Linked DNA regions of Homo sapiens: regions 2, 3, 4 and 5 are each linked to region 1. The links come from fine-mapping of genetic effects on gene expression. A gene starts in region 1. Each other region holds a variant in brackets. All regions are shown on one strand. Distances are between the middles of the regions. Region 1 holds the start of TSPAN18 (tetraspanin 18). Region 2 overlaps LINC02704 (long intergenic non-protein coding RNA 2704). Region 3 overlaps TSPAN18 (tetraspanin 18). Region 4 has its middle 20 kb from the start of LINC02704. Region 5 overlaps TSPAN18 (tetraspanin 18).

The links.
Region 2: its variant is fine-mapped to the expression of TSPAN18 in whole blood (TOPMed, PIP above 0.99).
Region 3: its variant is fine-mapped to the expression of TSPAN18 in whole blood (TOPMed, PIP above 0.99).
Region 4: its variant is fine-mapped to the expression of TSPAN18 in whole blood (TOPMed, PIP above 0.99).
Region 5: its variant is fine-mapped to the expression of TSPAN18 in tibial artery (GTEx, PIP above 0.99).

What each region holds. Positions count from the first base shown.
Region 1 is chr11:44,724,758-44,729,858 of GRCh38, reverse strand. TSPAN18 (tetraspanin 18) reads right to left here and starts at 2,897. Exons shown (of 10, transcript NM_130783.5): 1 at 2,572-2,897. All of the region lies in intron 2 of TSPAN18-AS1 (TSPAN18 antisense RNA 1), which reads left to right. RefSeq lists enhancers at 392-892, 893-1,395, 3,111-3,280, 2,647-3,508, 3,509-4,369 and silencers at 1,765-1,934, 2,771-2,920.
Region 2 is chr11:44,691,379-44,696,479 of GRCh38, reverse strand. LINC02704 (long intergenic non-protein coding RNA 2704) reads left to right here. Exons shown (of 3, transcript XR_931234.3): 2 at 167-259. Among named protein-coding and RNA genes, the nearest start is that of LINC02704, 7.4 kb to the left of the region's middle. RefSeq lists an enhancer at 3,850-4,350. The variant C/T (reference allele first, on the strand shown) is at 2,606.
Region 3 is chr11:44,751,722-44,756,822 of GRCh38, reverse strand. All of the region lies in intron 1 of TSPAN18 (tetraspanin 18), which reads right to left. Among named protein-coding and RNA genes, the nearest start is that of TSPAN18-AS1, 18 kb to the right of the region's middle. RefSeq lists enhancers at 2,314-3,120, 3,121-3,929. The variant G/A (reference allele first, on the strand shown) is at 2,719.
Region 4 is chr11:44,678,610-44,683,710 of GRCh38, reverse strand. No RefSeq gene overlaps it. Among named protein-coding and RNA genes, the nearest start is that of LINC02704, 20 kb to the left of the region's middle. The variant C/T (reference allele first, on the strand shown) is at 2,529.
Region 5 is chr11:44,862,170-44,867,270 of GRCh38, reverse strand. The region is part of intron 3 of TSPAN18 (tetraspanin 18); the gene reads right to left. Among named protein-coding and RNA genes, the nearest start is that of TP53I11, 86 kb to the left of the region's middle. RefSeq lists enhancers at 4,368-4,417, 4,518-5,101. The variant C/T (reference allele first, on the strand shown) is at 2,268.

The DNA of each region.
Region 1 (5,101 bases):
CCACACATCCTTGAATTAATCCTGTGTCCCTACCCAGCACCCTGCCCTCCAACACACCCCTCAGACCATTAAAATCTCATTTTTTAAAGGGCAGAGGGTTCCTTCCTGGACTCAGCCCAAGGTGTCCTAAACCCAACCCCAAGGTATCCTAAACCCAACTAACTTCGGCTTCTAGAAAGTGTCCTGGAGCTTTCAATGATGTGCTACCATTTCAGACTGGGGTTGGGTAAAAGCACCACATATACTGGCTGTTTGAATGGGTTTGGGGACAAGGGAGACAAGGAAACAGAGTGCCCAAGACTTGAAATGTTGCTAAATCAGAGATCTTGGAGTTTGCCTGGGAGAAGACTGAGCCCACACAAGATACTTTAAGCCCAAACACAGACTTTAGTAGCCCTTGGGGACCTTCAACTCCCTCTCCAATTCAGGAAAAGTGGGGTGGGGGTAGGGAGAAGAGGGGAGGGACAGAACACGGGAAACGCTGGCCTTCTAGGGGCCCCATGCTCCCAGGCAGGTTCCAAGGCAGGGCTGGTCCATGCAGGCTTCCCTCCACAGAAAAACAAGAGTCACTAAAAGCAAAACACAACAAAAAAAAACTTCTTTTGTTTTCCAGCCCCCTGGAATGTCTTAAAGACCTATCCAGACACAGCAGGCTTCTCCACCCTTTCCTTTCTCTCCTCTCTCCTCCTCCTCTTCTATTCAAAATAAAAATCATGCTGATCTGTCTTTATGGCAACTTTGTCCTGGAGCATTTCAGTAGCATCCAACAAAAACATGTGGCAGACTACATTGAACAGAGGAACCTCATCTCTTTCAGGGACCCCCATTTCCCCCACCTTTGTAAGGGACATTAAGGACATGGGAGCAGGAGGGGGGCTGCCCAAGGAGCACAGGTTACCAGCTAAGAGAAAGATGAAAACTTCTACCAACCACAATGAGGCCACGGCACAATCTATGATTTGCTCCTTTGCACTCACTTGGGGTGATGGGAGGAGGGAGGGAACTGGAGAGAAAGATGAGGCAATAGTCCCTCCAATGTCCCTTCAATGTTAGCCCCGCACATGACAAAGATGACAGTCCTCACAGATGCCAGCAGCCGTCGACTTCCCAAGGCACAGACACACAGACTCAACATACAGGGACCCTGAGGCCAGACAACTGGGACCCAGGGCAGATTTCCACCAATAATTGTGAAATGACCAGAAGAATGTGGCCTAGAGACCACAGACCCAGGGGATGAGGGTGGGGGCCAGGGCTCGTTGACTGCTGAGAAATTTAACACTTCTGCCTGGACTGCTGAAGTCTTTAAGGCCCCATCCCCCACCGCCCGCCCTGTGCCTCCCAGTTTACTTGTGCCCAGAGAGAGGATACCCCAAGACCCCCATCCTGCCTTCACCAGACAGGGATTCGACCAGATCCAGGAAACAAAGGTGCAACTTTTACAAAAAGGGTGCATGCATTTTGGGGTTTGGGTTTCTGCAACTCCAAAAACCGTCAAAAAGTTAATTCCCCAACCCACTCTCTCTGCACCAATTCGCAGTTGTAGTTTCTTACATCTTTTTCTGGGGGTAAATTTCTTACTCATCCATTTGCCCTGGCAGCCTTCCCGAGAAAAATCACATCCTGACTCCTAGCCTTTCCAGCCCACGGCGCAGTTATAACTGTGAACCTTTCGCCTCACTCTTGGTCCCGCTCCCCCGTCTGGCTAGTGTAGGGCGGGCTCCTCGGGGCGGGACCCCGCGTAAGTTGGGTGTCTGTGGTCCCTGCGTCCTGGATGTCGGCGCGGTTGCCTCGCAGGAGCCAGAACGCGCTTCCTGCTGGCGAGGGCCGGGGCAGTGCGCCCCCTGGCGGGAGCCCAGTCACCTCACTCCAGCAGGACCCGGAGCCGGCGCGATCCCACCCGAGCCGAGCACCGTCCCAACTGGCTCCCACTGCCCCCTAAATCTGGACGTGCCCGAGCCTCCCACCCACCCAGCACTCCATGGAGTCTCCACTTCCCCAAACCGCACACACCTAAGGAATAAGGGGGGTCCTGGAGGAACGAGTGGCGCCTCCGCCCCGCCCCGCCCCGCTGCCAGGGACCCCAAAGGCAGCCCGCCCTCCATGCAGCTGCCGGGCCCCACAGCCCTCCCGGCCCCGATCGCCGCTCCCAGTCCCTGGTCCCTCACTGTCTTACCGGGTGGCGTGGCGAGCAGCCCCTTTCCGGGCGCAGCCCTGGCCGAAACCCCGAACCTTGTAACCACACCTGCCACCCCGCGCCGTTCTCCAGAAGCCCCCACTCCTCCACCCGGAGCACTGGGAGCCCACCGGCTCTGCACCTGTCCTGGGCGCAGCCCCCGGCCCTCAGCGGACTCCGGGCAGGCACGGGGTGGAGACCGTCCCCGGCCCCCCAGCCCCCGCGTGCTAGTTTGAGTGGAACTTGGTTGCCGGGCTTCCGTCCTGGGATCCCTACTCCACCCCAATTCCCCGCCGCGTCCAGCAGCACCCCCGGGGCGGCGCGCGGGGGGGTCCCCAGGTCCCCGGGGGCGCGGCGGCGGCGTGCGGAGGGCACGGAGGTGCGGAGCCCCATACCTTCCAGCGGCGGCTGCCGGACCCCGCGCCAAATCCCGCCGGCGGCCGGGGGGAAACTTTCCTGGTCGGAGGGGCGCGCTCGCAACTTGCCCGGCGCCGGCTGCCTTCCCGGCGGTGGCGGCGCGTCCGGGGACCCGCAGCGCGAGGCGGCGGCGCTCGCTCGGGGCTCGGGGCCGGGACCGGGGCCGGGGCCGGGGCCGGGGCCGGGGCCGGGGCTGGGGCCGGGGCCGGGGCTGGGGCTCGGGCGGCCTCGCGCGGCTCCGCGGTGGATCGCTCGGCGCTACGTCCGCCCCGCAGCCTGGAGCCCCGCGACGCCGGCGGCAGCTGCACGCCCGCCAGCCCGCCGGCCCCACCTCCGCCGCCGTCCGTCCCTCCCCTCCCCCGCCCTCCCTCCCCCTCCCCAAACCTCCGCCCCTCCCGGCTCCAGACGCCGTTGCTGCCGAGAAGCGCGTCTCCTCTGCGGGCTGCCCCTCGCCTCCCGCCAGCCTCCGCCTCCTCCTCCAACCCCGCGTCCAGGCCTTGTCTGGGGGTCCCTGGGCCCACCCTCTGCCCATCTCCCCTTCCTCCGCCTCCGACCACCTCCCGCTCTGCTCGCGGGCCCTCTCTGCGTCTGAATTCGGAAGATCGTTGCGGGAGTGGGGAGAGGGGCATGCTGGACCCGAAGTGTTTATTCCAGGGGAACTTTCAGCTGACCCCGGGGCCCAAACGCAGGGGTTGGGGTGAGATCCTCGGTCCTGATCGGGCTCCTGGGCTTCCCGCTGCCGGGGGAAGTACCTGTTGAAAGCCTGGGGAACTCACCCTCCTCTGACTTGCAGATAAGAAAGGGGACTTCCTGCATGGAGGGGCCTGACCCCAGGTCAGATGCAAATGACTTGATTGCAAGGGGCCAGATCTGTGTCTCCGGCCTCAGGGCTGAGGTTCTTGCGGGGCTGGGGAGCTTATCTTTTCTTCTCTGTACTGCTGCCACAGCAGCACTGGCTCCCAACCCCTGACATGACTTGCCTGAGACTTTTAACCTCTGAGCCTCCTCTAAACAACTACCCGACCCTGCCCCAGACAAAACGGACAAGCAAGCAGATCAAAACTGACAGCCCAAGTGAAAGTACTGATGACAGGGGCTCGGGTCGCCCACTCCTCTTCCCTTGGCAACTCTGTTTTGAGTCCCAGCTTGAAGCTTCCACACCCCATCCCCGTGGGCCCTAGGCATTCAAGCACACATCAGCTCTGCAGGAGGCCCCTTGGCCAGCTGATTCTCACTAAGGGGTGACTGATAGGAAGGAGTTGACCCTACTCCTGTCTTGTATATGGATGTTGGTAGTCAGGCCACTGGGCAGAGTTTGGGGGGAGGGGGATCTTCTTGTTTTGTTTTTGTTTTGTTTTTGAGACAAGGTCTCGCTCTGCTGACCAGGCTGGACAAGCCTGGTCAACAAGCACAGCTCACTGTAGCCCGACCTCCTGCACGGCTTACTGTAGGCTCGACCTCCTGGGCTCAAGCAATCCAATCCTTCCAACTCAGCCCCCTCGAGTAGCTGGGACCAGAGGCATGTGCCATCATGCCTGGCTAATGTTTTCTGTTGTTTTTGGTGTGTGTGTGTGTGTGTGTGTGTGTGTGTGTGTGTGTGTGCGTGTGTGTTTTGTAGAGCTGGACTCTTACCATGTTGCCCAGGCTGGTCTCCAATTCCTGGCCTCAAGTGATCCTCCCACCTCAGTCTCCCAAAGTGCTGAGATGACAGACGTAGCCACTGCACCCAGCCACCAGCCAGAGTTTTGAGAGGCAGGAAGTGGCTGCCTTTCCTTGCCCACATTCCAGGAAATGGATTCGTCCCTGTAAGGGGATGTCCCTGTAAGGACTTCAGGGATGTCTGGTCCTTTAAAGAACTTCACCGCGTCACCGGGACTCTTAGAGTAGGCACGTGGCTGGAAGAAAAATCCCTGGATCCGCGGTTTCAAAGGGACCCAGAGTGAGCAAAGCTTCACCCAAGGGGAGGAAGTCCCTAATGGTGGAATTTCTATAAGAGGAGGACAAGGAGAAGGGCTCCACATTCACCCTTCAGCTGCCAAAACAGAATGGAGGGTGGAGGCTGAACACCCCACAGGCCCTGCACTTGTGGAATGCTGCTGGGAGAGGCCCCGTGTGAGCCTCCTTGGACACCAGGCGCCACATACATTTAAAGAGGAAAAACGGGAAGCCCACAGCAAGGGTGCTGGAGCTGGGGAAGTGGAGACCAGAGACAGGCAGAGAGAGGGATAGAGTCTCTAAGGGTCTGGGGCTTGGCAGAACGGGGCAGGCGCAGGGGAAGAGAGTGCAGACCCGCTGCACAACTTAGACAACCAGCTCGGTCCCTGACTCCAGTTCCAAGTCAGTTTCCTGGACCTCAGCCTCTCTCCAGCCTCCATGGAGGACCTGGCCCTATCTGTGCATTAGCTAAGGACATCTGCTGAATAGGCTTCTCTAAATCAACTCTTATTTTTTCATTCTTTTTTAATTTACTTAAGTGAGCTTGTTTTTAAAAAGATATGTTAAATTATT
Region 2 (5,101 bases), 33 kb after region 1:
AGCTTATACATGGCAGAGTGGGGACTGGAACCTCGGCCGGTCCCAGGGTCTGCGTTCTTAATCACCACATTGTACTACCTCTCTGGGACTATTTCAATATTACATTTTTCTGAAGCATGGCCGCACCCCTTAGATGACTTGAGCCTCTCTTCTTCCCGTGTTGCAGGTGGAGAAACATGGGGCTAAATGATGATCTTGAAAAGGGCCCTCACTCGTGAGCCTTCGCCATGTGCCAGTCACTATGCTGAGCACCTTGCAGGTGAGAACGTGATTAACCTCACGGTAAGCTCCCACGTGGGGCCCATTGCCATCCTCTTTTGCGGACGAGGTCACCGAGGGACACAGACTTTAAGTAATCAGAAGGGGAGAAGCCGGGTCTCACACCTGGGTTCATCTGGCTTCATGGAGCAGGCCCTGAATTAGGAGTCAGGCTATGAGCCATCACTCACTGTAGGCCCTGGGACAGGGAATCTAACCTGTCTGGGCTCTGGGTTCCCCAACGTAAGGGTTAAGCCAGTCCCACAGGGCCACCTGGCTCTAGGACTCTACGGCTCTGCTTGACCCCGCTTTGCTGGGTAAACACATGCCAGTCTCTCACTAGCCAGCCTTGGAAGCTTCAGCTCTGAGAGGGGGATAATAATGACCCTCCACATAAAACCATGGGAAGACTAAATGAGATGACCTGGGTCATGCCCTGAGGACATGATAATAATGAGGAGGAGGAGCAGGAGGAGTCAAACAGCAGGACCCTGTCCACCCCAGCCTGCTGCCCTGCCCTCTACGAGTCCCCCAGAGACAGCCTCCTTTCCCCACTCCTTCAGCTGAGGTGGGGCTGGAGATTCCAGCCTGTGGCTCCAGACCGTGGGAGGAAGTGAGAATGTCCTTTCTCATCAACTCTTGTTCTTCCAGGAGCTTCAGGTCCAGGCCTTGGGGGTCAGCAGGGCAAGCCTGAGCCCTGTGGTGCTGTGGGAAGACTTGGTTCAAGTGACACTGAGCCTGGGACAAAGTGCGGTTGATGGCTCTTGTTTTCCCTGGCCCTTCAGATTGCCTTTGGGAAACCACCCAACCCTCACTCCCCTCCACCCACGTGCATTGCATGGGGCTAATTCTACCCCAGGCCCTGACTCCAAGTATGATCACCTGATCCAGACCTGGCCAATCAGCCTGTTCTGTCCCCCAGGCCACAGTGATTTGTTTAGGGATGATCATGTGACCTACAGAAAGCTTCAGGATAGTGGCTTCCTTGGGTAGGGGAGGCTGATGGTCAGACAGGGAAGAAGCCCACAGACAGATGCAAGTGCTGGTTAATGTTCTGATTCTTGTGTTGGATGACCAGGTCTTGGGTGTTTATTTATATAAATAAACAGAGGAGAACCGTTTATGAACCTATGGCAAGAGGATGGCGTGAATAAGGGATCATGATTAATAGAATTCAGAGACAAAGGGAGAGAAAACAAACAAAAAACACCTCTGGAACTTGTTGGAGCTCTTGGAAAAGAAAAGCTGTGAGTGGATGTTCAAGAGGGTAACCTAGGGCCTCATGCATTGGGGCATTCAGAAGTTTCGTACTGGATCAAAAACAACGAATGAAGCCTGCAGTGCAGAGAAAACATTGTGATATGAGGGTAAGTAGGAAACACATCTAGACAGCAGCCCTGGCCCTAGGTCACACTGCAACACTGTAAGCATTATATCCCAGTGGGGACAAGGACTGAGGGGTCAGGGAGAACGAGGACAGTTAATTTACAGAGAAGCCCAGCTGGTGGGGGATTGTGATTTGGTTTCGTTTTCCATTAACGTGGTTTGTGCGGCGCAGGTATGCAAAGGCGGCCCCACGTGAGTGAAGCACGCACCGTGTGCACCACTCAGCATCGTCACACATCCTGACATCCTGACAGGAGTCCTGTGGGCCTTTTGTGATGCCCAATTTATAGACAAGGAAGTCAAGGCCTAGTGCAGCAGAACATGCTGCAGTAGGGCCGGGAATTGAACTCAGATCTGCCCGCCTCTCAGCCTTCCCCTGTGGGAAGCCCTCTCAGGTTGGAGGACTGTGAGGCAACTTCTTTTGCAGGCCCAGCACATGCTGTGGAGCTGGTGCAGACACCTGGTTTCTGCATCTTGGGATCTCACACCCTCAGGCTGGGGGAAGCAGGGGAGGAGGCTGGTAGGTTGTGGGGGAAAAGATTTTAACTCTTTTATATCCCCCCACCTCAGTCTCCACTCAGGCAACCCCATCCCAACGTCTGCCCAGTCCAGGTGAGAGCTTGAGACTTGGCACTGGCTCAGAACCAAGGGCAGACCCTGAACAGGGGCATCCGGGCAGAGCCCCTACCCCCCATGCACTCCCTGCCCTCCCCAGCTCCCAACTCGGGGCCCCTTCCCTAGCCCCCAGCCCAGGGCCTGCTGCAGCTCCCCACTCATCACCTGAAGTGGGATTGACTACCCCCACCCCAAAGAGGGCAGCACGTGCGGCAGCCCTGATGGGAGAAGCAGACGGGCGGCCTGATGGAGCTCTGGAGAGGGAGGTGTTGAGTGAGGTGGGAGGGGATTGAGGCCGGCAGAACTAATGGCATTAACAGGCCCTCAGGGTGGACAGGGCTAAGCT[C/T]TCATCCTGGGGCCCTGGAAGCAGATAAAATGTGGGACTAGATGCTGGAACATATGCCCTGTGAGTCCTGCCTTCTTCACTTAAGCCACGCAGTGTCCTTGTGCAGGCAGGGGTTAGCTATGACATTAATAATCATAAAAAGACCAGTGGTCACTGCCATCTGCTGATCCTTATCAGGCACAGTTGTAAGGGCTGCTCCTGCCTGGTCTCAGGCTTTGCAAGGTCTCTCTGAGGTGGTGATTATGTTGTCCCCATTTTGTCTCAGATACAACCAGAGAGGGTAAGTCATTGGCCCAGTGCCACAAAGCATCTAACCCAGGTCAGAAAGGATCCATAGCCCACCCCTTTAATCTCAATGGCTATGTGACTCTCCAACTTCAGTGTTCATCAGATCATTTGAGGTGCTGGTAAAATGCAGGTTCCTGGGCCCCACCTTTATCCACTGAATTGGGATGCAAGGGGAATGAGACTTTGGAGACCATTTTTTTCAGGCAGAGTCTCACTTTGTCACCCAGACTGGAGCTCACCCAGAGCTCACTGCAACTTCTACCTTCTGGGCTCAAGCGATTCTCCTGCCTCAGCCACCCAAGTAGCTGGGATTACAGGCATGCACCACCATGTCTAGCTAATTTTTGTATTTTTAGTAGAGATGGGGTTTCACCATGTTGGCCAGGCTGGTCTCAAACTCCTGGCCTCAACTGACCCACCCGCCTCGGTCTCCCAAAGTCCTGGGATTACAGATGTGAGCCACCATGCCCGGTCTGGAAGCCATATTTTTGACAAGTGCCCCAGTTGATTCTAGTGATCAGGCATGTTTGGGAACTCCTGCACCAGGCTGTCGAAAGGACTAGTCAGAGAGAGGTGGAAAGCACCCAGTCTGCAGTGTCAGGCTTCTAAGGCTGTGGCTCATGAATAATGGAAGCAGGGGCCCTCCATGACGTCTCAGAAGGGGTGGACAAGAGGCTGCCCCAGGGCTGGTGGAGGTGGAGGACTGTCACCTCCCCACCTTCCCTGTGCCCCTTTTGGCTGCCTGTACAGAGCAGGAGGTCAAAGGCCTTGTCTAAGGACGTGGCAGGAGGGCCTCTCAGGGGCCCAGTCAATCAGTGGGGTATCTGTCAGCCCCTGGGGTGAGGCCGGGTCGGGGAAGATGGCAGACGGACACCCCCCACCCCAGGCCTCTCCCTGGGGCCAGGCAAGAGCTATCCAGCTCATCTTCCCGGGGGCTCCTGCTTCCCCCTTCCCACCCTGCCAGTCCTGCGTTGCCATCACCCGTGACTCCCAGCTGGTCACCTCACCACAGCAACAGTCCTGCTCCCTGGCAAAACAGGCACAGCAGGGGCAGAATCCTGACAGAGTCACCCACATCCACAGTCACAACCACGCTGATGGACAGACGGGGTGCTGTGTGACCCGCACCTAAACAAAGGGGAGACTGAGACCAGAAAGCTAGGCGGGGCCTGCATTGCAGAAGGGCACCCAACTCAAGGGTCAGGTTGAAATCCTGCCCAGCCACGCGCTCTGACATGGGGCTGTGTCTTTAGGGCTGGGGGTGGAAGGGGCCTATTTTTCAGGTGATATAAGAGCACTGGGGTGGGAGGGTCCCGTCTGCAGGAGGAGCCCAGGACTTGCCCAGGGTCCATCCCCTAGTTGCCGAGTGGTACTGGGTCTCCAGACTCCTAGACCCTTTGTTTGGATCAACCAGTCAGTTCAAACTGCTTTAACCCACAGAATGCTTATTTCAAATAATTTCTTTTTGTTTGTTTTTTTGTTTTTGAGGCAGAGTCTTGCTCTGTCACCCAGGCTGAAGTGCAGTTGCACCATCTCAGCTCACTACAACCTCTGCCTCCCAGCTTCAAGCAATTCTCATGCCTCAGCCTCCCGAGTAGGTGCGCGCCACCACAACCAGCTAATTTTTTTGTATTTTTAGTAGATACAGGGTTTCACCATATTGGCCAGGCTGGTTGAACTCCTGACCTCAGGTGATCCGCCCGCCTCGGCCTCCCAAAGTGCTGGGAATACAGGTGTGACCCACTGCACCCGGCCTCAACTAATTTCTTATACAAAGTAATAAATAATAACCCTAGCCAACAATGTTTGAGCATGTCCTATGTGCCAGGCCCTTCTCATGGATAATCTAATTTATGACTAAAAATAATCTTACGAATAGCCATGATTATTGCCATTTTATAGAAACATAAACTAAAGTGTCAATAAAACAGGCAAAAATCATGCTGCCACTGACTCCAGGGGGGCCACCCCCACATCTCCAGACTCCAGGGGTTCCTTGGAGCACAATTTGAAAACCAGTGCACAGCAATCTTCAGCATATTTGTACCAGAATCAGAAAACACGTCAGAACGATGCACCATGTGAAGTTTAATTAGGGATACTTCCTCCTGCAGTTTAAGCAGCTTCCTAGGGTCTTGCCATCCCTACCTCACCACCACCACCGTCGCTTTCCAGTCTTAGTAAAGAATGGAAATGCTCACCTATTAT
Region 3 (5,101 bases), 27 kb before region 1:
TCCATCAACAGATGAATGGATAAGCAAAATGTGGTCTATCTACACAATGGAGTATTAGTGAACCTTAAAAAAGAAGGAAATTCTGACACGCTGCAACATAGATGAACCTTGAAAATGCTATGCTAAATTTTAGAAAGCCAGTCACAAAAGACAAATACTGCATGATTCCACTTACATGAAACATGTAGAATAGTTAAAATCACAGAGACCAGAAATAGAATGGAGGTTACCAGGGGCTGGGAGGAGAGGAAAATGGGAAGAATTATTGCTTAATGGATATAGATTTTCCATTTTACAAAATAAAAAGAGTTATGGAGATGGATGGCATGGACGGTTGCACAACATTATGAATGTATTTAAAATAACTGAACTGTGTACTTAAAAATGGCCGAGATGGTAAATTTTATGTTGTATTTTATGACAACTAAAAAAAAATGGGGAAAAAAAGGGAGTAGCTATGATTCATGATTCCAAGTTATTCTCCTGGGAACCCTTCCCTCCCTCCCTCCCTCCCTCCTTTTTGTTCTCACAAAGAACAGATGGGGGCTACACCCCTCCACACACACACAACACACTTAATTCACAACAATTGGACTTCACAATAATTTATATATTAACTTTCCAGATAACATTGAAGACCACTGGTTTAGAGTCTCCTGTTGTCCTAGAATCCCAAGTCAGTCGGATTTCAGAGGAGGAAGAGAGCCAGGAAGACTTCCTGGAAGAGGCAGCAAGGAACAAAGGAAGAGAGAGAGTTGACCAACCCAGTGATAAGCCTTTCCCTGGTTAGCTTCTGTTGGCAAACTCTCTCTCCATCTCCCTCTTCCCTCCTCCATCTCTCTCTCCATCTCTCTTTCCCTCTCTCTCCATTTCTCTCTCTGTCTCCCCTTCTCCCCACCCTGGCTCTGTACTCCCAACCCTAGTCACCCTACATCTCTTCCTGGCTCCTAGGAGAAATAGCCACCCTTCTGAGTCCCGAGGCCATAAGAATTTGGCCTTATGCCCCAAGAAGGAGCAGCGTCCTCAGGGAGACCCTGGATGCCAGCTCAGCCTCAGACCTCGTCTCCCAAGCCGATGCCAGGCCACAGGATCCAGGCTGGGCCACTGCCAGCCTGATGCATTGCTTGTTGACAGATAAAAGCTCTGCAATTTATGGCTCCAAAGCAAAGCCAGGGCTTTGTTTTGCTTTGTTTTAAATTAGCTACATAGGGGGTTGGTGTGGGGGCAGGGGAGAGGGAGGAGAGCCAAGGCATGCTCAGGATGTCTTGGGGCTGCGTCCCCAGCTCAGCAAACCCCAGGGCAGCCCTTAATGAAGCCACCTGAGCGCTGAGAACCTTGCAGTGTCTGCCGGGCTCTCCACCTGCACTTGTCTGGCTGGGGGAGGGAAGCGCTTCCCACCTGCTCGTCCTGTCACTGGGCCCAGCACCCTTTGTTCCCAGAATGAGTCCCAATCAGCCTGGTTAATTGTGCCTCAGGGTCTCAGTGGGGCTGAAGTGAAACCATGACATCCTCAGAAAGATGGGGATCTATTCCTGCTCAGAAAGAGGAGGCTGTTCCTTACTGTACTTGACACAGTGCAGCAGGCTCTGGGCACTGCCAGCAAGGGGCCCCAAGGGTCTACCCAGAAGCATGGGCCTTCCGATCTGAGCCCATTAGCTCTTGGTGGGATGAGGAGGGTGGAAGGGCCAGGGAGGGAGGGAATGTCCCAATCCCCATAAATGATTGCCTGAGACTGTTTATTCTCAATGCAACTGCTGTTAAGAATCATTTCCCCTCACGCCTCCCATCTGGTCTGGGGCTTTTCTGCAGACAGCACATGCCAGCCAGGGTCTCTGTGTGCCCTCCTGTGTAGGACCTGCCATAGACAGACACAGCCGCACTGGTCAACTGAGTAGGAAAGAGCATGTGTAGCCTGTGGCAGCCCAAAACCTCTTGCCATCGGTGGGCATTGTCCCACATCTGCTCCCTCTTTGTGCTGTCTGAAAGCACTTTCTCATCACTTCAAGGAGGTAAGGACAAGGACTATCCACTGGACCTCCCTTTTCATCTAAACTGCACTCTTCTTTCTCCTACACCGCACAGCTCAGAGGAGTCAGGCATCTTAACCACAGTCACAGAGCCAAAGCTGCCCAAGCCACGGCACTCATTAACTCCAGCCTGCATTAGAGGCCAGGTGTGGCCAACACCATAGTATTAATCCTCTCAAGGATACATCTGAGATCTTACATCTTGGGTCATTGGGCTGTTTGAGCAAAGATACCAGGCTTTCAAAGGTTACAAGCACAGCCAGTGCTTTGGCACATGGTTCAAGAAGAACAGAGACTGTCTCAGTGCTGAAGTTGGCTTTGGTATGAATTGTGTCTCAACATGTTCCAGACCCTGAACTCCACGTGGATGCAATGTGCAGTATTAAACACACAGGAACGCATGCCCAAGGATAGTCTGCCTCGGAGAGAAGCAGTATTAAAAAGCCACACGCCAGTAATAGAGATGTTTCTAAACTGGCCACCCTGCAGCTAGCAAGGAAGCTGAAGGCCGCAACTGGGGCTATTAATTCAGACTTTATAACCCACAGGGCTGCAGCGGAATACTGGGAAAACTGCACCCCAACTCTTTGTAATGCTTCCCTGCTCAAGTCCATGTAAATATATTCTAATGCAGAAAAGGTCCGCAGGAGGCAAGACCACAGAGTCATTAGCATTTTGATGGCTTTTCCCA[G/A]CACATGGAACCAGAGAGCTTTAAAATTCATAGCGTGGAGATTAATCCTTCAAGTCACACTTGTCCCTCCTAAGCTTTAGGAGGCCAAGAACTTTTTACCCCTTTAAGACCTTGATTAGCAAAGAAAGTTAGAAAACCAGAGAGCTCGGTCAAGGGAGTCCTAGTGAAAAGACGCATGACTGGTTTTCTAGACTAAGTGTGTTGCGTCCAAATACAATTAAATGGCAGAATTAGAGATGGGAGTAGTGGATAGGCTGTCACCCTGCATGAGAGGTGGGAGCTGCTTTGACTCAAATACTCCAGAAGAGGAGTCCCTGCCGATCCCTAACAGCACAGCTCATCCTTTTGTAACTGACGAAAGCCAGGCTTCTTAAAATCCATGTGTATTCACTCAGCAAGCCACACTGAAGTCGATCACTATGTGCTCACATAATAGATGCTTGGGACGATGGGATCAGGAAGCCAGTTCAGCTCAGCAAATCCATGATCTCAAAAAACTCAGTTCGAATGGAGAAAGAGACAGGGAAATTGGAGATTACAATAAAATGTGAGGGTGGCAGCGGCGAGTCCAGCTACCCTGGGACCCCCAGGAAGATGCTGGGGGCACCCACAGAGGGTGAGTCAAGCTGGGTTTATGAGCAGATCAAAACTTTCTTTTGAAAATGGATGCGCTGGCTGAGTGCGGTGGCTCAAACGCCTGTAATCCCAGCACTTTGGGAGGCTGAGGCGGGCGGATCGTGAGGTCAGGAGATCAAGACCATCCTGGCCAACATGGTGAAACCCTGTCTCTACTAAAAATACAAAAATTAGCTGGGTGTGGTGGTGGTGCATGCCTGTAATCCCAGCTACTCGGGAGGTTGAGGCAGGAGAATCGCTTGAACCAGGGAGTCGGAGGTTGCAGTGAGCCGAGATGGCACCACTGCACTCCAGCCTGAGTGATAGAGTAAGACTCTGTCTCAAAAAGAAAAGAAAATGGATGCGCTATAATATCAAGTGAGAAAGGTGAGGTCCGCAGTGTTTTCTAGCATGTGATCAAAAAGAATATATGGATACTGTTAAGAAAAGTCATCTGTAATGTGGCAAAAGGCAAAGAGAGGTCTGTGTCATTTCAACCTCATATTGGAGTACTGTTTAGCAAGCCTACCCAAGAATCCTGTAATTACCCAGGGGATTCTAGAGGAATGTAACTTTGTATAAAGTTACACATGAACTTGTAGATTTTTTTGGCTAGTAAAACAGATAAACCCCAAGGTTATGGTTTTCTGCCTTATAGGGCATTAACCAGTTTTATATCCAATCCAGCCATCATATTCAGGCATTCTTTCTCCAATGCCTACATAATCACTGTTCCTTGAATTCTCCTGAGAGCTAGCTTTTCCATCTTGCTGGCCTCCTCATTAAATCAATCTTTGACTCATGTTCATTCTAGATTTATGAGAATCATGGCTTTATTGTTTAAATTATACTGACAATACATACTCATTTATATAGAGATATATGTATGCATACATGTGCACGTGCACACACACACACACACAAACTGTCAAAGAAATGAAATTTCAACAAATTGAGTTGTAAAGATCTCATTTGTTTTTATTGTGATTCATGAATTGGGCAGCATCCCATCTACAAAACAGAAAGGTGCTCTGTTGCCAAGATAGAGTCACTGCGCTTCAGCCTGGGCAACAGAGTGAGACCCTGTGTCAAAAAAAAAAGAAAGAAAGAAAGTTGTTCTGCTGAGCTGAATAGAAGGGATGGGCTTTATAGACAGGAAAAGGCTAAAGAAGGCAGAAACAAAGAACAAAATGTGGATTGGTCATTTAAAGTCACTTTCCTTGTATCGGTTAAAACAGAGAGGACTTCATCACATCAGCTAAAACTAGCCTGTTTTGGAGATTTAGCTATCATCTTCCTCCTGATTTCCTGGAAGGTCAGATCTTACAAGTAAACAATTTAGGTTTTAGTTTGATAATGTGACACTTCAGCTTGAATGACTCCATTTTGGGTTGGTGTGTTGGGGCCTAGTGCTAGAGTTCAGTCCAAAACACTGGCTTCTCATATATTTTACTTAACAACATGCAAACATACACAACACACAGGGAAAAAACTGGGAAGAAACATACGCAAAATATTAGCTTTAGGTAGCTGAGATATATATGACTTCTTTTTTTTTTTTTTGAGATGGAGTCCTGCTCTGTCACCCAGGCTGGAGTGCGGTGGTGTGATCTTGACTCATTGAAACCTCCGCCTCCCAGGTTCAAGGGATTCTCCTGCCTCAGCTTCCTGAGTAGCTGGGATTACAGGCACCTGCCATCATGTCCAAATAATTTTTGTATTTTTAGTAGAGATGGGGCTTTACCACGTTGGCCAGGCTGGTCTTGAA
Region 4 (5,101 bases), 46 kb after region 1:
AACTAAAACCAAAAAATGCAACAATAAAAATAATACAAGTTAAAAATATACTACAGCAACTATTTATGTAGCATTTACATTGTATTAAGTATTATAAGTAATCTAGAGATGATTTGAAGTATATGGGAGGATGTGCATAAGTTATATGCAAATATGACTCCATTTTATATAAGGGACTTGAGTATCTGTGGATTTTGGTATCCACAGGGGATCCTGGAACCAATCCTGTAGGGATACTGAAAGATGACTGTATGCACTTTACAGCACAAAATCGGATAATAGTGACTAGGCTATTTAGTAATCTGTTATTTTTCCCCATCTAAAGATAGCATGTCAACTGGGCAGCACTGGGTCATTTATTTCTGATACCCATGTCATTCTAATGACACCCATGGGCTCAAGGTGGCCTTTTTTGAAGGTCTCATGTTGCCCAGGTTCTCCCATGACTCCTTTATTGCAAACACTAAAAGTGATTTGCATTTCTCTGATCAGGTCTTCAATTCATGCCTCCATGCCCTTTTACTTGCTGGTTTCTACCAGCAAAGCCCTTCTCTGCTTAGCAAAATCACACTCAGCTCACATATTACTTCTGCAGTGAAGCCTTCCCTGGCTACTCTAGCATCATCCTCTCCTCTCCCCGTGCCCTTATCTTCTTGCAATGCTTCTACAGGATGTTTTATCTGGTCCTGTTTGAGCATCTGTCACTTTGTATTTCTACTGTACAGGGTGTCCATAAAATCTGGAAACAGGCAAACATACAGAATATTGTCAAAGACATCTTTCATATGTAACATATACATACATTGTTATGACTTTCTAGGCTTCTGGACTTCATGGATACCCTGTATTTTCACTGGTCAGTCCCCTTCATTCCATGGTGAGTGCTGGAAGTCAGAGAAACACTATCTTCTTCATATTTGTATCTCTAAGGGAGTATTTAGGTGATTATTGATCACAGTTTCCTCATCTGTGACATGGGACCCTTTGGATAGTGGTAGGTGAGATGAGATAATGCAAGAAAGCAATTAGCACAGTGACTGATGCAAAGTAAGCTTTCCATAAATAGTGGCTATAACTGTTTGTAGTATAATTGCTATTGTTATTAAGCCTGTGGCTTTTTGAACAAGGGATGTGCAGAGTGAGGGAGGGATGACTAAATGAACAGATGATGGATGAATGGATAATGAGTGAAAGGATGAGAATATGGATGGGTGATAAAGGGAGAAGGATGGATGATTAATAGAGGCTGGATGGATAGTCTTAGAATGGATAAATGGAAGGATGGAAGGATGGGTGGATGGGTGGATGTATGGATGGATAAATGGATAGATGGATAGATGATGGATGAATGGGTGGATGGATGGATGATGGATAGATAGGTGGGTAGGTGAATGGGTACATAATGGATAGTTGGATGTGTGAGTGATGGATTGATGAATGAAGGGTCCATCTTTTCCTTTCATAAGTAAGGATAGAAGAAAGGAGGCAAGAGGTTGACAGGAAGACCAAAGGTCTTGGTGGCTAGAGACAAGAGTCAAAGGCTACTTGTTATCCCAGCCTTCTACCATAGCCCAGATCTCAACTAGGTCTCATAACTTAGTCTCCGAGTGACTGTTCCTAGGCCGACTTGAGGTTATGCCTCTGGAATAAGAAGAGATTGGCTGTGGAATAGCTGAAGGAGCAAATGTAGGGCTATAAATCTGCCCTTGGCCGAGAGGCTTTCTTAGAATTCACTGTGAAGTTCACTGACCATGAAGTTGCTTCTTGGGGGAAGGGAAGCCCTAAGCTCTCCTCCACTGGCAAGGAAGAGTGAGTCATTATGGTGACCTGAAGGTTGCAGAAGCAAACACCACATTGCTGCCCAGCTGGCCCTAGCTGCAGGTCCTGAGGGGCCTTTTCAGACACATCCAGGAGAGGTCTCAGGGAATGATCCCCAACCAGCCACCCAAGTGGGATTATAGGGGGAGTGAAGAGCAGGGCAAGCCCCTGGGAGGGAGCTTGGAGGGGTCCCAGAATCCTGGAGCACCAGCACCAGCAGAGACTCAGGGATCCTCCAGGCCACCCCACCCATGGGGCAGATGGAGACACAGAGGCAAGAGAGGGTGGTGGCTTCCCCAGGTGCCCTGCAGGTCAATCAAGGGTGGAGTCGGCGCTTGAATGCAGGTCCCAGGCTGTGGGGTCTCTCCAGTCCTCACTGTTAGCTATTCCTTGGCTGTGGGGTGAAACCACCCAGACTCTCCAGGAAACCCTGAGGCTTCTCAGGCAGGGCGTGGCTAGAAGCAGTTTCCTGGGGGCTGGTTTATATTCCGACACTGGTGTGTCTTTCACCACAGCCCCTGTAATGTTCCAGGAGTCACTCTCCAGGATTCTTGGATGCTGAGAAACCCTCCCAGGCCCTGAGGCCGATAAAAGAGTGTTGGATCAAGTCCCTCTCTGCTGCGTGGAGCCCACGGTGATTATCTCTGGGACTCTGACTTGAAGAAGCCAGGAAGACAGAACAGTGGCTTTTCAGGAGCTGCAGGTCAGGC[C/T]CTGCCCAGTGGAAACAGCCACACCTGAGAAACCCACATCCTTTTGCTGGGGAGCCAGAGTGCCTGGGCGGGGTGTCCTGACTCCTCCCCTTACTAGCATGGCCTTCAGGGAGGTACCTCCTCTCTTTCTGCATTTCATGGCTGAAGAGAGGGGGATGGGGGCGAGGGATGCCAAGAAAGGGTGGCCTGAGAGAAAAGAGGAAACTTAGGAATGCATTTGGGCCTGTTTACTGAAGGCCTGTTTACTCTGCTCCTTGCACCCAAATCCCACTGAAAACAATAACGAATTTGGGGGGAAAAAATAGAGCAAGACCTCCTTTTTTTTTTTCTTTTTTTTTGAGAGAAGTCACCCAGGCTGGAGTGCCATGGCACGATCTTGGCTCACTGCAATCTCTACCTCCTGGGTTCAAGTGATTCTCCTGCCTCAGCCTCCCTAGTAGCTGGGACTACAGGTACCTGCCACCACACCCAGCTAATTTTTGTATTTTTAGTAGAGATGGGGTTTCACCATGTTGGCCAGGCTGGTCTCTAACTCCTGTACTCAGGTGATCTGCCCACCTAGGCCTCCCAAAGTGCTGAGATTACAGGTGCCATTTTTTATTAAACCAGAAAGTATACATGCTGCTAAATGCCACAAATATGAAGAGGGCACAGAGAGACGAGGAGGAAGCCAGTCTCCCTACAGACAGCACCACTGGGAGGCCTCCTCTGTGGATGATAGGGTCTGGGGGCAGCTCAGGCTGCAGGGTCATGAGAAACATCCTTCTGTAGACCCAGTTCAATAGCACAGGACAGTGGGGGGCGAGACGGGACGTGCTGACCGTCCATGTCTCCTGCCTGGCACCCAACTCCTCCCAGCACCAGGAGACTGCTGGGGCGAAGTAGAGGAAGGAGGACGTTTGAAGGCCTTTGCTGAGTCTTGGCAAACCTCAGTGCTGAAGTGGGAGGTGATGTATGTCCAAGGAATAACAATAAAGGATTTGGAAAGAGCATGTCTGCTGGAAACAAACCCTAGTCACTTTCTGGGTTGCATACCTCTCTCTTCAATATCATCCTGCAACAAATGACTGGCTGTGTTCTAAGGTGAATGATAATCACAAAGGAACCAAAAAGGGACTAAAGAAAACAAAAAGGCAATAGAGGTAAGGAACGTAAGCAAAGACCACAAGAACTGACGTCAGGAGAGGACTTATTAAACAAACAAAAAACACAGAGGGAGAGTCAGACACACAGTGCTCCAGGTACTCAAAGAGATTGCACACGACCCAACCTCCTTAATGAGCTAAAAGATGTCAAGGTTTCCATAAAGCACTTATGAGGCAACAGACAGAAAGACACCAGCTCTCAGGAAAGAAATAGAAGCAAAAAATAAAGACACTTTGAAATTAAAAAGACATATGGGCTGGGTGCAGTGGCTGATGCCTGTAATCCCAACAATTTGGGAGGCCAAGGTGGGCAGATTACTTGATGTCAGGAGTTCGAGATCAGCCTTGCCAACATGTCGAAACCCTGTTTCTACTAAAAATACAAAAATTAGCTGGGCGTGGTGGTGGGCACCTGTAATCCCAGCTACTCGGGAGGCTGAGGAGGAGAATCGCTTGAACCCAGGAGGCGGAGGTTGTAGTGAGCCGAGATCGTACTATTGCACTCCAGCCTGGGTGACAAGAGCAAAACTCTGCGTCAATTAAAAAAAAAAAAAAAAAGACGTATGGATACAAACAGCCAACAAACATATGAAAAAAAAATGCCCAACATCACTAATTATCAGGGAAATGCAAATGAACACCACAATGAGCTACCACAGTACTCCTGCAAGAATGGCCATAATTAAAAAGTCAAAAAATAATAGATGTTGATGTGGATGTGGTGAAAATGGAACACTTTTACTCTGCTAGTGGGAATGTAAACTAGTACAACCACTATGGAAGACAGTGTGGAAATACCTTAGAGAACTAAAAATAGAGCTACCGTTCCATCCAGCAATCCCATTGCTGGGTATCTACCCAAAGGAAAAGAAAGTCATTATACGAATAAGACACCTGCATGCATATGGGCATAGCAGCACAGCTCACAATTGCCAAAATATGGAACTAATCATATTCAACCAATCATGTTCCAAAATATGGAACCAACGATATTCAATCAACGAGCGGATAAAGAAAATGTGGTATATATACACCATGGAATACTACTCAGCCGTAAAAAAGGATGGGATAATGTCTTTTGCGGCAACTTGGATGGCGCTGGAGGCCATTATTCTAAGTGAAGTAACTCAGGAATGGAAAACCAAATACCATATGTTCTTACTTATAAGTGGGAGCTAAGCTACGGAGATGCAAAGGCATAAGAATGATATAATGGTGGCTGGGCACGGTGGCTCACACCTGTAATCCCAGAACTTTGGGAGGCTGATGCAGATGGATCACAAGGTCAAGAGATTGAGACCATCCTGGCCAATATGGTGAAACCCCATCTCTACTAAAAACACAAATTAGCTGGGCGTGGTTGTGCGCACATGTAATCCCAGCTGCTCAGGAGGCTGAGGCAGGAGAATCATTTGAACCCACAAGGTG
Region 5 (5,101 bases), 140 kb before region 1:
CCTCAAACTTGAGCTTCCATCAGAATCTCCTGGAGGGCTTGTCAAAACCCAGGGTGCCGGGCCTCACCACTCTCAAGTTTCTGATTCAGTGGGTCTGGAGTGGAGGTCTGAAAATCTGCATATCCAGGTTCCCAGGAGATGCTGGTGATGCTGGTCTGAGGATCATGTTTGAGAACCACTATTTAAACCCTGAGCAACTTGAGGTTGGTCTTTTATTATTTTTTTACCTCCAGTCTCTGAAAGAATCTGATTTAAGGTTGGTGTTCAATCAATACTTGAATGAAAGGTATTGATGCATTTGTTGCAGCCAATGAGAGTGACAGGATTATGTCTTGAGACTTTTTTTCCCCAATTTGTTCACTCTGCAGTGGGCATTCTTCTCTCTTCTTTCCGAAGATGGTGGCCAAGTCTTTGGGTCCTATGCCTTGGGGGCGGCTGGTTTCCCAGGCCAGTCAGAAAATGGCTGGGTCTAGGAAGACAGCTTAGGCTGAAGCCCATGAAGGTGGCTGCAGTGTGAGCCTGCAGAGGAGGGCAGCAGAGGCAGCAGGCTTGAGGGGAGGGGTGGAGAGTGTTTCTGGAGATCAGCCAGATTGGTAGGATCCAAAAGTTACAAGCTCAGGTGCCCTGTTCCCGGAACAGCTCTTCCAAGAGGTGATCAGGCTTTAATGGAGTGATCCTGAGATGCCAGAGAATGGTTGGGAGACTGAACACCGAAGCTCATAGCTCGGAGTTGCAACCAAAGACCACAGCTGTGCCCTGGCTAGCACAGAAATAGCTGCTGCCCACCTGGCCTCATTAGACCCTGAGATTGGCAAAGAAGCCTGTCTGCGGGGCCCCTGTGTGGGCTCAAGTCCAGCAGCCTTTCCCAAATGTTTCGGATCACATAAGGCCACCAAGACTCCTATGTGATCCTAGGTGGCAAGAAATCCACTCCCCAACATAATTGGGATTGAATGTCTTTCAAATTCGTGGAGGGAGCTGAAGGCAGATTTAATCAGATTTAGAGAAGTAAAGGCAGACGGCACACCTCGTACCTGCTGCAAGTCCATTTAGCACCGATGATGTGCTGGGCCCCATGCCAGTCCTGCTGGAACCTAATGCCAATTGTGTTCACTTGGACCTGGGCCTGTGCCCGAGTGTGGCAGCAGAGGGCACAGCTGGGAGTGCAGACTGTCAGAAGGTGAGCAGGAACAATCGATTGTGCTGCCGGGGTCACAGAAGCTGGAGCTGGACTGAGCCCTGGGGCACTGTGACAGAAGAGGGGCCCCCAGCAGGTGGCCATCCACATTGTTTGTGAGGCTGGCACTCCAAGCCTGGACTGAATGTGGTTCGGCTCAGGCCACTCCCATCCCCAGGACTCTGAGACCCCATAGAGTGCTGGAGACCCCTGTGACTCAGAGCAAACAGTGCTGGGGAAGCCAGGCTGCCTAAGGGACCCGACTGCTCCTGCTCCTGTTCCTGCTCCACTGAGACCCCTTGGCACCAGCCTCAGGACTTTTAGCCTGGATGACAACTGGCTGCAACAGCCACCAGGCTACTGTCCCCTCCTGACTGCATAGCTGTCCCCTGTCCTTAAGGAGAGAAAAAAAAGAAGAAAAGTTCTAGTCTTGAAGAACCCCACATTCAAAGAGAATGTTGCTAGGAAAAGGGACTGATGGGGTTGGCAGGTGGAGGGAAGAGGAATTTGCTTTTTAATTTAAATCCTTCCAGATCATTTGAATTTTTAAGAAGCCTATATTGCTTGTGTAATAATAACTTTTCAAAGTAACTTTTTTGTCTTACAAATGCAAAGTAGTCTGGAAAAACCCGTGTGGGAGCAAGAAGATGCAACAAATAGCTTAAGGGTGTTCATTAAATACACCATCATCATCCTTTCTTGAGCATTTACCACGTGCCCAGAGCTCTGCAACTGTTTTAACACTCATTATTTAATTTAAAGCTCATCGCAGCCCTATGATGCCATTAGTGCTACCATTTTCTAGATGAGAGTTGAGAATTTGAGAGAGACTCAATAACACGCCCAAGGTCACCCAGCCTCAGAGCTGGCGTTTGCAAGCTCTGTCCTTAAATCAGGGTACACACCAGGCTGCCTCCCTGAAATCAAACTGAGAAACTTAATCAGCTCAAAAGCCATTTGTTTTGAGTCCATTCCACTACTTGAAAATTCCTTATATTCCACGGGAGCCAAAATCAAATTGTCACAGAAAAACAAGCCAAGAGATTGGTATGTCCAACCACCCCGGCTGAGGCTGGGACAACACCGATTC[C/T]AGTAAATCCACTGTGATCCTTCCACCCATCCATCCATTCACCAACCTCTGGCTGATGCCCCACATGGCAGGCTCTGCTGGCTGCCAGAGACCAGAGAGGGTGAGATACCCACAAGGAGACCGCCAGGCAAACACAGGGGCAGACTGGACCCCCAGCACCTTCCATGTACAGGCTTGGCGTCCTCCAGAAATAATCAAAACCCTTTGCAGTTCAGGATCCAAAGAAGCATCAAAGGGGGGTGAAAAATGAAACAGGACCTTGCCATTGGCACCCAGGGCAAGCCCATCTTCCCCGTGAAACACTTAGTTTTCCTGATGCTGAACTGGGACTTGGCAATCCACCCCATAAGGTCCATGTGCAACACTGGACCAGTCCATTTTAGTGGATGCTCTGGCATTTCACCCAGGCCTTAGGCCCAAGATGGCAAGGGAGGGTTGAACAAAGCTTCGGGTGCCATGGGAAGCTGGGGTGGGATTTTCCCCAAGGCCTCAGCCTGAAGACCTGAGCTGCCGAGAGCAGGGACCCTGAGCATCCTATCCAATAGGACCCCACGTGCCTCTCAGAGGCCCAGGCACACAGTAAGTGCTCAATGAAGTGTTGGTGAATGAATGAATAAATGTGATTCTGGGTAAGGCAGCCCCAACCCCAACACTTTTCGGAGATGGGAGGGGTGTGACACCCCACCCCATCACCAAGTTTTTTTTTTTTTTTTTTTTGAGACGGAGTCTCACTCAGTCACCCAGGCTGGAGTGCAGTGGTGCGGTCTTGGCTCACTGCAACCTCTGCCTTCCAGGTTCAAGCAATTCTCCCACCTCAGCCTCCCAAGTAGCTGGGACTACAGGCGAATGCCACCACACCCGGCTAATTTTTGTATTTTTAGTAGAGACGGGGTTTCACTATGTTGGCCAGGCTGCTCTCGAACTCCTGACCTTGAGATCCGCCCGCCTCAGCCTCCCAAAATGCTGGGATTATAGGCATGAACCACCGTGCCCGGTCCCCATCACCAAGTTTTTTGGGACATGGACCAACAGGCACCTATACACTGAAGACTCCCACAGAGTTATATTAATATGATTGAAATATAAATAATAACAACACCAAATAGCATCAGTACTACACTGAATGCTGATCCCTGGCAGGTGCTCTGTTAAGCACTTTCTGTCATTCAAGTATTTCCTTCCATCTTCACACAGTCTTACGAGAAGTGACTATTACTATCTCTAACTTACTTATAAGAATACTGAGGCTGTACTGCTAGCAGAGCTCAGATCCGAACCCAGGTCTGACATGGAATACAATGTTTCAAGCGGAAGGAGCTTGACAAACTATAGGCCAGGAGGCTAAGGACATCAGTAGTGCAGCAGGGACCCAAGTCTCCCAACTTCCAGCCCAGGGTATGCCACTAGGGCAGCTGCTTGCAATGCTCTAAGTGAAAATGAGCCCTAAGCTCTGTAAAGTATCTCAGGAATGAGAGGATTAAGAACTCTTGGTCTTTGTGCAGCACCATCTCTTTGAAAGGGCCCTCCAAAACTCCCCTTCCCAGGGAAGAAGAGGACAAAAGGAAAAGGGAGGCGCTACTAAACTCCGTACCCAAGCTGTAGTTGAAAGCAGCCTTGAAGACAAGATGGCCCCAGGCCCAGCACGGCCAAGCCTGGAGGCCTGCGGGAAAGAAGGCTAACCGAGTTCATCTGGCTTCCTGCCTGGCACAGTCTTTCAAGCCTCAGGGTCCCACTGCCAGGCCTTTGCTCTCACTGTGTCTTCCTCCCGAATGTCCTTTCTAACGTCCGAAACTGGCCTATATCTAGGCACAGCTCACAGGCCTTGCATCCCCTGATTTTACACCACCACTGTGCAGCAGTAACATCTCCTTCTGGCCTCTGAACCCCCAAGCCTTCCTTTATATTTCAGCTCTGGACCCTCCCATTCTTTACCTTGGATGTCTTGACTTTGATCGTCTCCCTTAAAAATCTGGCCTCTGAGGTGCCTGTTGAGTGCATCTGAATGAATGACGAATGCCTGGGAAGTGGAGCTTGTATGATTCGTTTTATTAACAGGTGCACACTCCAGGAGCAGGTCTGCATACAGATCTCTCTAACAGCTGCCCTTCCTCCTCCCCAGGGCCATGACAAGTGGCACCTTACACCCTAAGTCCTAAAGGCTGAGAACCAAGTCATTCTGCTATTTCTGCTGCATCAGGCACAGGTGGGGGCTTTACAAAATGCTGTGGAAAGTAACTGACCGACATATCTACCAAGCCAGCCCAGTTATGGTTTAGCACTGTCTGAGACATCAGGCGAGGGGTTGGGGGCAAGACACCCAGAGGAGGGTCCTGCCCTCAGGAGATCTCCCAGAGGAGAGGTCAGGGAACCCTGAGGACAGGGACCTTTGGGCTTTGCTCACCCTCAATCCCCAGCATTTAAACAGCTCCTGGCACATGATAGGCACTCAACAGCCATTGGCTGAATAAATGAATTAACACTCATTGACCCAGAGGTGCTGAGCTCACCATATAAGGCAGGGTGGTGCTGAGCGCTGAGCTGGCTGCATGGTGAGTCAGAGCTTTGGAGCCCACAGGCGAGACACAGAGCGAGAGAGACTGGGGGAGGGCCAGGAGGTTTGTGGTTGACCAAAACCAAGCAAGGGGCAGCTGCCTGGGAGGCAGCATCACAAGCTGTGGTTTTCGGTATTTTTTCTGCAGAGGAATATTTGCTCAAATGAAATCACACATCGCACCCTAAATGTAGGACAGAGCTGCCGCGGCGGAGGGCAGCAGGGCTGCCAGGCTGGCCTGGCCACGTGTACCCTCGTGCCCCCAGAGACGGAGCTTCCACTC